Homo sapiens: one gene and its partner. The protein of the gene in region 1 purifies or fractionates together with the protein of each later gene. This does not show direct contact. Each region holds a gene or a part of one and is shown on either strand. Other genes may lie near its edges.

What was found. The genes of interacting proteins can lie anywhere in the genome.
Region 2: the proteins of DNAJC25 (region 1) and BLK purify together in Homo sapiens (affinity purification with mass spectrometry, with the first as the bait; one large-scale study listed by BioGRID). This does not show direct contact.

What each region holds. Positions count from the first base shown.
Region 1 is NC_000009.12:111,640,011-111,645,691, reverse strand, and holds part of DNAJC25 (dnaJ homolog subfamily C member 25 precursor), read right to left. Parts: intron 2,836-5,681; exon of another isoform or gene 2,598-2,835; intron 1-2,597.
Region 2 is NC_000008.11:11,549,887-11,553,386, reverse strand, and holds part of BLK (tyrosine-protein kinase Blk), read right to left. Parts: intron 3,229-3,500; coding exon 3,125-3,228; intron 902-3,124; exon of another isoform or gene 1-901. UniProt on the Homo sapiens protein: Non-receptor tyrosine kinase involved in B-lymphocyte development, differentiation and signaling. B-cell receptor (BCR) signaling requires a tight regulation of several protein tyrosine kinases and phosphatases, and associated coreceptors.

The sequences.
Region 1 (5,681 bases):
TTCTCTGGGGTCTGTTTAGGATCACCTTCTGAGTCCTCCAACATGTAGTTTTTTAGATTTAAAGTAAGAAATTTGTTAATGACTAAATCTTGCTTGTATCCATTAAAATCATTACGTATTTTCTATTAAGAATTTTGGGCCGGGCACAGGCGCTCACTCCTGTAATCCCAGCACTTTGGGAGGCCAAGGCAGGCAGGTAACTTGAGGTCAGGAGTTCGAGACCAGCCTGGCCAACATGGCAAAATCCCATTTCTACTGAAAATACAAAAATTAGCCAGTCGTGGTGGCTTGTGCTTATAATCCCAGCTACTCGGGAGGCTGAGGCAAGAGAATCACTTGAACCTGGGAGGTGGAGGTTGCAGTGAGCCGAGACTGTACCACTGCACTCCAGCCTGGGCGACAGAGCGAGACTCTGTCTCCAAAAAAAAAAAAAAAATTTTGAATCTGTGTGAGATCATTCTCAGTAAGTTCTCCCATATTCATTACATTCAAACAATTTCTTACCTCTCACCAGTATATGAAACGATGTAAACTAGTAGCTAGCTTAATTAGATACGAATATATTTATATGGAGGGCCAATATGAAAACTCTCAGTTATACAACGAGGTGTGAGCTCAAGCTAGTATTATTTTCAGATTCACTCCTTGTATGTTCTCTTCAGTCAAAAAGGATTTTCTTGTGGCAGCTGCTATATGCCTCAACTGTCAATCCGTGACTCCTTCTTTAAGTCATCATCCTATTCCAGAGCTCCTAACCTAGAAAGGGTAAACCTATATAAGGATCACACAGACAGCGCTGAAGACTAAAGCCTGTGTCTCTTCATGTGTCTCCTTTTGAGTACCTCAAGAAATCATCTGAGAATTTTCCCATTCTCCCTCTGCTTTTTGGGCTAATTTTATAGAAATGCCGTTTTGGCGCCTTAAATCCTTGACTTTAACTCGGCATCCCAATCATGACAGATGCCTTTTGAAACGTATTTCTTCAAGTACAATTCTTCTTGCTACAACTAGATTACATGTAGCTTTTAAACGAAATGCCACACGGAGATCAGACTCCTATGAGCCTCATTGTCTCTGTGCAGCCCTTTGCCCCGGCTGTCTGCACTCCTCCTGGTTGAAGTATATGGAGTAAGGTCTTGGAGTGTCGTTGAAATCTGGTAAGCGGACATCATGTGTCCAGTGACTATCTTCTCTTTTTGTTCTCTTATCTCTGTTCTACAGAACGTAGATATCATCCCTCTTCAAACATTTCACTCAGATCTTTCACCAGGGTCACCATTTTCTCACTGGTTTCTAGATTATTGACTTTACCAAGTCCTGAATTCCTTTAACACAATGGTCAACTAATGCTCCAACACAAGCAACTCCAAAATTTATACCTTGTGTCTGGCCTCTCTACTGCAAGCAGAGCCTGTGCAATCTGTTCAAGGTCCCCTAATGGAGTCCTCAAACTACCAAATTCCTGCAAGACATCTCAGGGTCAAGTCTGACTTCTCTTTGGATGGTTTTCTTTTCTTTAGGGTCACCACAAATTTATGACCCTGTTTTGGCCATGATTAGACTAAAAAGTTGGCCACTTCCTCGTTACAGCATTTATTCAACTTATTTTATCTCCATTCTAGGGCTTAAAGCTTTCTCTCCAAAATGAAGAAAATGATCAGTTTTCATGCATACTGATGATGATCAGTGAGGCATGCATATACTTTAGAATCAAGAGCAGCACAAATAGGTAAAACTTAGGAGTTCTCAACAGCCTAAGTCAAAATTCTGCTCTTTAGTAACCTACAAAGTTTAGAATCAACCTAGTAAGAACAAGAGGATACCAAGAATATTAGCAAAGAAAAGACATAATAAGAAGGACCATCCTTCTGGGACTCAAGTAGAAAGCTAAGGTACATTCTTATTTTTTTCGTACTCATCTTGAACTAAGGTAGCCACACAATTTTTTTTTTTTTTTTAATCTCCAGTGCTTTCCCATGGCCAAAGTTAAAATTTCCTTTGCATGCCACCAGGCCTTCACAACTGGTCCAAACTTACCTACCTAGCAACATCCCTTATCAGTTTCCCCTCTTTTACCCATAGCAAACATTCAGACAGCAATTTCTGGAATTTGGTGTGTTATTCCAACACAATGTTCCTTTTCATACCTATGTCTTCAAATGTCTATTTCTCTCTAATTTGAACCTCATGAGTCCTATTAATCCTTTAGAATGTAAACATTACTGCCCCAGACAGTTGGATCGTTCTTATTACACTTGGTACCTATTTATTATAGCACTTATCACATTGTAATCATCAGTTTTTTTCTTTTCTTAGAATGAGAAGTTCTGGAAAGTAGGTAGGGTAACTCCAAGGCCTAGTACAGTGCCTGGCATTCAGTAAACATTATTTCAAAAACGAGTGAACTTTTGTGAAGGTTTTTCCTTGCAATATGCATCTCTCCACTACATAGGTCTCCATCTCACCAGCAAGGCTGGATGGGTGGCGATGTCATAAAAACTTCAGTTTGGCAGAAGTGACTGCTTGAATTCATAGTTTATGAAAATATGCTACTGTGGCTAACATAGCTTAAACCTTAAAACAGTTTAATATCTTACCTTTCAATAAGGTAGTACTTTTTCTTTCAGCAATTTTGTGGATCTTAAGGTCCCAGGGTCTGGAGATTCCAACTTCTTTCCAAAACCAAAACCTTTATACTTGTTTCTTCCTCCTGTCTGTCCTGAGCCTTGACAAGCAGGGCAATAAGCTCCTTGTTTCTAATCTCTACAGGAATAACTGTGGTGCTTCTGCTGGTGTCCATTCCACTCCCAATCCTCTTGGGCATATGCAGGAGGACTGGAACATAACCAATATCTAGATCAAAAGTGAACAAGAGGAAACCCACAAGCAAAGAAAGTACTGAATCCTTCCTTCTCTTAAAGGGTCATCCCCCCTCCCCAGAGGCAAAAATATATTATGTTCCTGCCCTTGAAGGAAATCATGAATTGTTTGATCTCAGTACATAAATTGTAATAATTTGATATTGCAGCTAGTTTTACATTTATTTTTTATTTATTTATTTATTTATTTATTTATTTATTTATTTATTGATAATTCTTGGGTGTTTCTCACAGAGGGGGATTTGGCAGGGTCATGGGACAATAGTGGAGGGAAGGTCAGCAGATAAACAAGTGAACAAAGGTCTCTGGTTTTCCTAGGCAGAGGACCCTGCGGCCTTCCGCAGTGTTTGTGTCCCTGGTTACTTGAGATTAGGGATTGGTGATGACTCTTAACGAGCATGCTGCCTTCAAGCATCTGTTTAACAAAGCACATCTTGCACCGCCCTTAATCCATTTAACTCTGAGTGGACACAGCACATGTTTCAGAGAGCACAGGGTTGGGGGTAAGGTCACAGATCAACAGGATCCCAAGGCAGAGGAATTTTTCTTAGTGCAGAACAAAATGAAAAGTCTCCCATGTCTACTTCCTTCCACACAGACACGGCAACCATCCGATCTCTCAATCTTTTCCCCACCTTTCCCGCCTTTCTATTCCACAAAGCCGCCATTGTCATCCTGGCCCGTTCTCAATGAGCTATTGGGCACACCTCCCAGACGGGGTGGTGGCCGGGCAGAGGGGCTCCTCACTTCCCAGTAGGGGCGGCCGGGCAGAGGCGCCCCTCACCTCCCGGACGGGGCGGCTGGCCGGGCAGGGGGGCTGACCCCCCCCACCTCCCTCCCGGACGGGGCGGCTGGCCGGGCGGGGGGCTGAACCCCCCACCTCCCTCCCGGACGGGGCGGCTGGCTGGGCAGAGGGGCTCCTCACTTCCCAGTAGGGGCGGCCGGGCAGAGGCGCCCCTCACCTCCCGGACGGGGCGGCTGGCCGGGCGGGGGGGCTGACCCCCCCCACCTCCCTCCCGGACGGGGCGGCTGGCCGGGCAGAGGGGCTCCTCACTTCCCAGTAGGGGCGGCCGGGCAGAGGCGCCCCTCACCTCCCGGACGGGGTGGCTGGCCGGGCAGGGGGGCTGACCCCCCCCCCACCTCCCTCCCGGACGGGGCGGCTGGCCGGGCGGGGGGCTGACCCCCCCACCTCCCTCCCGGACGGGGCGGCTGGCCGGGCGGGGGGCCGACCCCCCCACCTCCCTCCCGGATGGGGCGGCTGGCCGGGCGGGGTCCGACCCCCCCACCTCCCTCCCGGACCGGGCGGCTGGCCGGGCAGAGGGGCTCCTCACTTCCCAGTAGGGGCGGCCGGGCAGAGGCACCCCTCACCTCCCAGACGGGGCGGCTGGCCGGGCGGAGGGCTGACCCCCCCACCTCCCTCCCAGACAGGGCGGCTGGCCGGGCGGGGGGCTGACCCCCCCACCTCCCTCCCGGATGGGGCGGCTGGCCGGGCAGAGGGGCTCCTCACTTCCCAGTAGGGGCGGCCGGGCAGAGGCGCCCCTCACCTCCCAGACGGGGCGGCTGGCCGGGGGGAGGGCTGACCCCCCCACCTCCCTCCCGGACGGGGCGGCTGGCCAGGCGGGGGGCTGACCCCCCCACCTCCCTCCCGGATGGGGCGGCTGGCCGGGTGGGGGGGCTGACCCCCCCATCTCCCTCCCGGACGGGGTGGCTGGCCAGGCTGAGGGGCTCCTCACTTCCCAGTAGGGGCGGCCGGGCAGAGGCGCCCCTCACCTCCCGGACGGGGCGGCTGGCCGGGCGCGGGGCTGACCCCCCCACCTCCCTCCCGGACGGCACGGCTGGCCAGGCGGGGGGCTGACCCCCCCACCTCCCTCCCGGACGGCACGGCTGGCCGGACGGCACGGCTGGCCGGGCGGGGGGGCTGACCCCCCACCTCCCTCCCGGATGGGGCGGCTGGCCGGGCGGGGGGCTGGCCCCCCCCACCTCCCTCCCGGACGGGGTGGCTGCCGGGCGGAGACGCTCCTCACTTCCCAGATGGGGTGGCTGCTGGGCGGAGAGGCTCCTCACTTCTCAGACGGGGCAGCTGCCGGGCGGAGGGGCTCCTCACTTCTCAGACGGGGTGGTTGCCAGGCAGAGGGTCTCCTCACTTCTCAGACGGGGCGGCCGGGCAGAGACGCTCCTCACCTCCCAGACGGGGTCTCGGCCGGGCAGAGGCGCTCCTCACATCCCAGATGGGGCGGCGGGGCAGAGGCGCTCCCCACATCTCAGACGATGGGCGGCCGGGCAGAGACGCTCCTCACTTCCTAGATGTGATGGCGGCTGGGAAGAGGCGCTCCTCACTTCCTAGATGGGATGGCGGCCGGGCGGAGACGCTCCTCACTTTCCAGACTGGGCAGCCGGGCAGAGGGGCTCCTCACATCCCAGACGATGGGCGGCCAGGCAGAGACGCTCCTCACTTCCCAGACGGGGTGGCGGCCGGGCAGAGGCTGCAATCTCGGCACTTTGGGAGGCCAAGGCAGGCGGCTGGGAGGTGTAGGTTGTAGTGAGCCGAGATCACGCCACTGCACTCCAGCCTGGGCACCATTGAGCACTGAGTGAACGAGACTCCATCTGCAATCCCGGCACCTCGGGAGGCCGAGGTTGGCGGATCACTCGCGGTTAGGGGCTGGAGACCGGCCCGGCCAACACAGCGAAACCCCGTCTCCACCAAAACCAATCAGGCGTGGCGGCGCGTGCCTGCAATCGCAGGCATTCGGCAGACTGAGGCAGGAGAATCAGGCAGGGAGGTTGCAGTGAGCCGAGATG
Region 2 (3,500 bases), on another chromosome or scaffold:
GGATCCCCTGCCTCTGTGGTATGTCTGGACTGCCCTGGGCAGGCAGGGCCTGGCTCTGAGATGAAGATTTCTCAGCACTGAAGGACCGCCTGCCTTTGAGCTGTGAAACTAGTCTATCCTCACATAGACACCAGTAAACTGAGGCTTGAGAGGCTCAAGGACACCCCGGAGGCCACGAAGGGTAGAACTCACTCCCCTGCTTCCATCCCTGTCTTGCATTCACTGCTGTGGCTCGGAGAAGCAGAGGGGTCTTGCTTTGGAGTTGTGTGTGTGTGTGCATATGTACGTGTAAGGTGTGTACATGTGTTGCACACGTGTTCATTGCATCTGTGCATATGTGCACATGTATATGTGTGCGTGTGTGTGTATATGTGCATGCGTGGACATGTGTATGTGTTTGCATGTGTATGTGTGCACACATGCCTGTGTATGCACATGTGTGTATATGTGTGCATTTGTGCATATGTGCATGTGTGTTCATGTGTGCATGTGTATGTGCGTGTGGTGGTGATGATGGTTGAACAGTCCTGCAGCCCTGGTCCCATATGGCCTATTCCCAGCTTGGACTGGCTTCCTGGGGTGGACATGGACAGGAAAAGATGCCAGACTCATAGAGAACCCCTTCTTCCTCCACACCAGATTGGGCAGGGGGTGGGGAGGCTTTCACCTTAGCAATAGGCAATGGTTGAAATATCATTTCCAGGGTGACATGACATGATGTTTGGGATTTACTTCGAAAGAACAGGGGTGGAGCGGGAGATACAGATGAAACAAGACTGGCTCAGTTGATAATTGTTGAAGCTGGCTGTTGGGTACCAGGGGTTCCACTAAACTATTTTCTCTACTTCTGTGTATGTTTGAAATGTCCTGGAACAACAATAAAACACTTATGTCATCTCCAGTGATTCCCAAATTATTTCTTGTACAGAGGTGCTCTGCCACAAAAATGAAATAGTGACAATATCCAATATGAATATAAATATAAAATGCATATATCTATGTGTATGTATATGTATGTATATGCATTCATTGGCATATTCCAAGAAATCCTGCACAGAGCACCCCAGCTTTCCAATGCACCCTTCCTGCTCCCCAACCTGGTCCTGCCCCTTTGTGGGGCACCAAGGCCTCATGATGTCCCCAGAGAATCACAGGGTGCTATGACAGCTTTTCATACTCTGGGTTTCCACTCTGGCTGCTGTTCTTGAGCCACAGATGGAACCAATGGACAGCCCAAGGGTGCTCCCACCAGGTGACAACTCTGTCCATTCTCATCGCCCCAACCACAGGGAACCAGACTCATATTCCAGACACTCTCTCTCCCTTTCCTCCTCTGATGTCACTGTCACCATCTCCTCTCCAGTTAAAATTGGCTACAAGGCTGTACCTGGTCCCTGTGGACAGCTTCCTGATGAGCAAAGCATTCTTCATACTGCCTGGGAAGCCCCTGGGTCACCCTAGCTTGCCACGTTGTAGAGCTTGGGAAGCCTCTCAGCCTCTTAGATGATGTGGTCACTGGTGCTTTGGGCTCTGATGCTTACTGTTGGCCCCCAGCAAGTCACTTCCTGTTTCAGGGACTCCCTTTCCTCATCTGTCAAGTGGATTAGTATCTTACAGACGAAAAGCTAGTGGCCAGTGAGCACCAGGGACCATAATAGGGTTCGGTGCAACACATGCATTAACAGCCCCAAACTGGAAACAACTCAATGCCCACAACATGAGAATGGCTAACTTGACTCTGGAATGGTCACACCCGGGATTCTGTATAGCAATGAACATGAACAGGCTCACCATCCTCAACCACATGAATGAATCTGTTACTGGTTGAATCATGTGCGCTCCCAATTCATATGTTAAAGTCCTAACCCTCGGTCCTGAGAATGTGGCTATATGTGGAGACAGAGCCTTTAAAGGGGTGATTAAGTTAAAATGAGGTCATATGGGTGGGCCCTAATCCAAATTGACAGGTGTCCTTACAAGAAGAGATTAGGACACAGACATGCATGGAGGGACGGCCACGTGAGGACACAGAGAAGACGGCCATCGGCAAGCCAAGGAGAGAGCTCCCGGGAGGAGCCAACGCTGCTGACACTTTGGTCGTGGACTTCCAGCCTCCAGAGCTGTGAGATAATAAGCTTCTGTGGTGGAAGCCACCCAGTCTGTGCCACTTTGTTACGGCAGCCCAGGAAACTAACATAGAATCCCACAAACACTGCTGAGTGACAGAAGCAAGACACACAGAAACAAAAACAGTGATTCTATCTACATCAAGCTGAAAAAACAGACAAGACATGGTGGCGAAACCACAGAGAAGAGCAAGGAAGGATTTCCATCCAAGTCAGGACAGCAGGTAGCTCTTGAGGGTGGGGGTTGAATCAGGAAGGAGCCCAAGTGGGGGAGTGAGGGGGCTCCTGGTGGTCTGGGATGCTCTTTCTCTTGGCTGTCATTACACAGGGATTTGTTTATTATTACCCTATATGATTTAGAATTACACATTCATACTTCATGCAAGCTTTATATGTGTTTTATATTTTACACCAAAAAAATTAAGAAGGAAAGAAAGCCAAATGACAGAGAAAGAGAGAAAACCCCTGAGGGTGATGGCAGCTGTTTTGCTCAGTCAGTGGATTTGAACTCATGAGTGTCTAGACTGGCATGGGCTCCCCTCAATTACCACCCTCTTCTCTTACATCACGGCACAGGCCACTTCCTAACATATGCTACCTGCAGCCTCTGGCTGAGATGATCTTGAAGGATTCTTTGAGCTCCCCCTAATCCTTGATTCCAAAGAGGCTGGTGGTTAAGGGCTCAGGGTTCCCCCTTCCCTGGCCCCCACTGGCCTCGGTGTTCCTGCTGACTGGGCAGCAGGGCCAGTCTGGCGTGGGACCACCCCTGTCCACCCGGCTTCCTGTGCCCAGGTGGTTTCCAGCCGGGACAGGGAGGACTGTGTGGACAGCCCCCATGTCAACTCCCGGGCAGGGCCTGAATTGGGAGGGACACAAGCCCGGAAGCTGCTGGTTCTCCTGGCAGTCACCCCTTCCCCTCTCACTCCAGGGCCAGGCCTCTGGAGGCGCCTTCCCGGGAGGAGCAGGGCAAGGAAGGCAGGCAAAGCCACCAAGCCTACCTTTGTTGGTTTCACTCTCTCTGATAAGAAAGGAGCCGGCCTTGTTGATTGGAGCAAGAAGCTGCCTCTCAGCCTCCTTCCGACCCTGTGATCTAAAGAACCACCTGGAAAACGGCAGGAACAGGTGAAACTCAGAGCGACCCTGCTCCTCGGAGTATTCCCACACAGCCTCCCTCCTGCACTGCCTGTCCCCAAGAAATAAAAATCTAGCATTTCTGGTCCCAGTCGGCCCTGAGCTGCTGCTCCTCACACCGTGATGGAGTCAGTGCCCTCTGCCCCGCTGCCCTTCCAGTTCCGCTTCCTGTCAGCCCTGGACTCACTGTTTTCCTAGAACGAAACAAGAACACTAGTTGGTTGACCTTTGTTAATTTTGCTT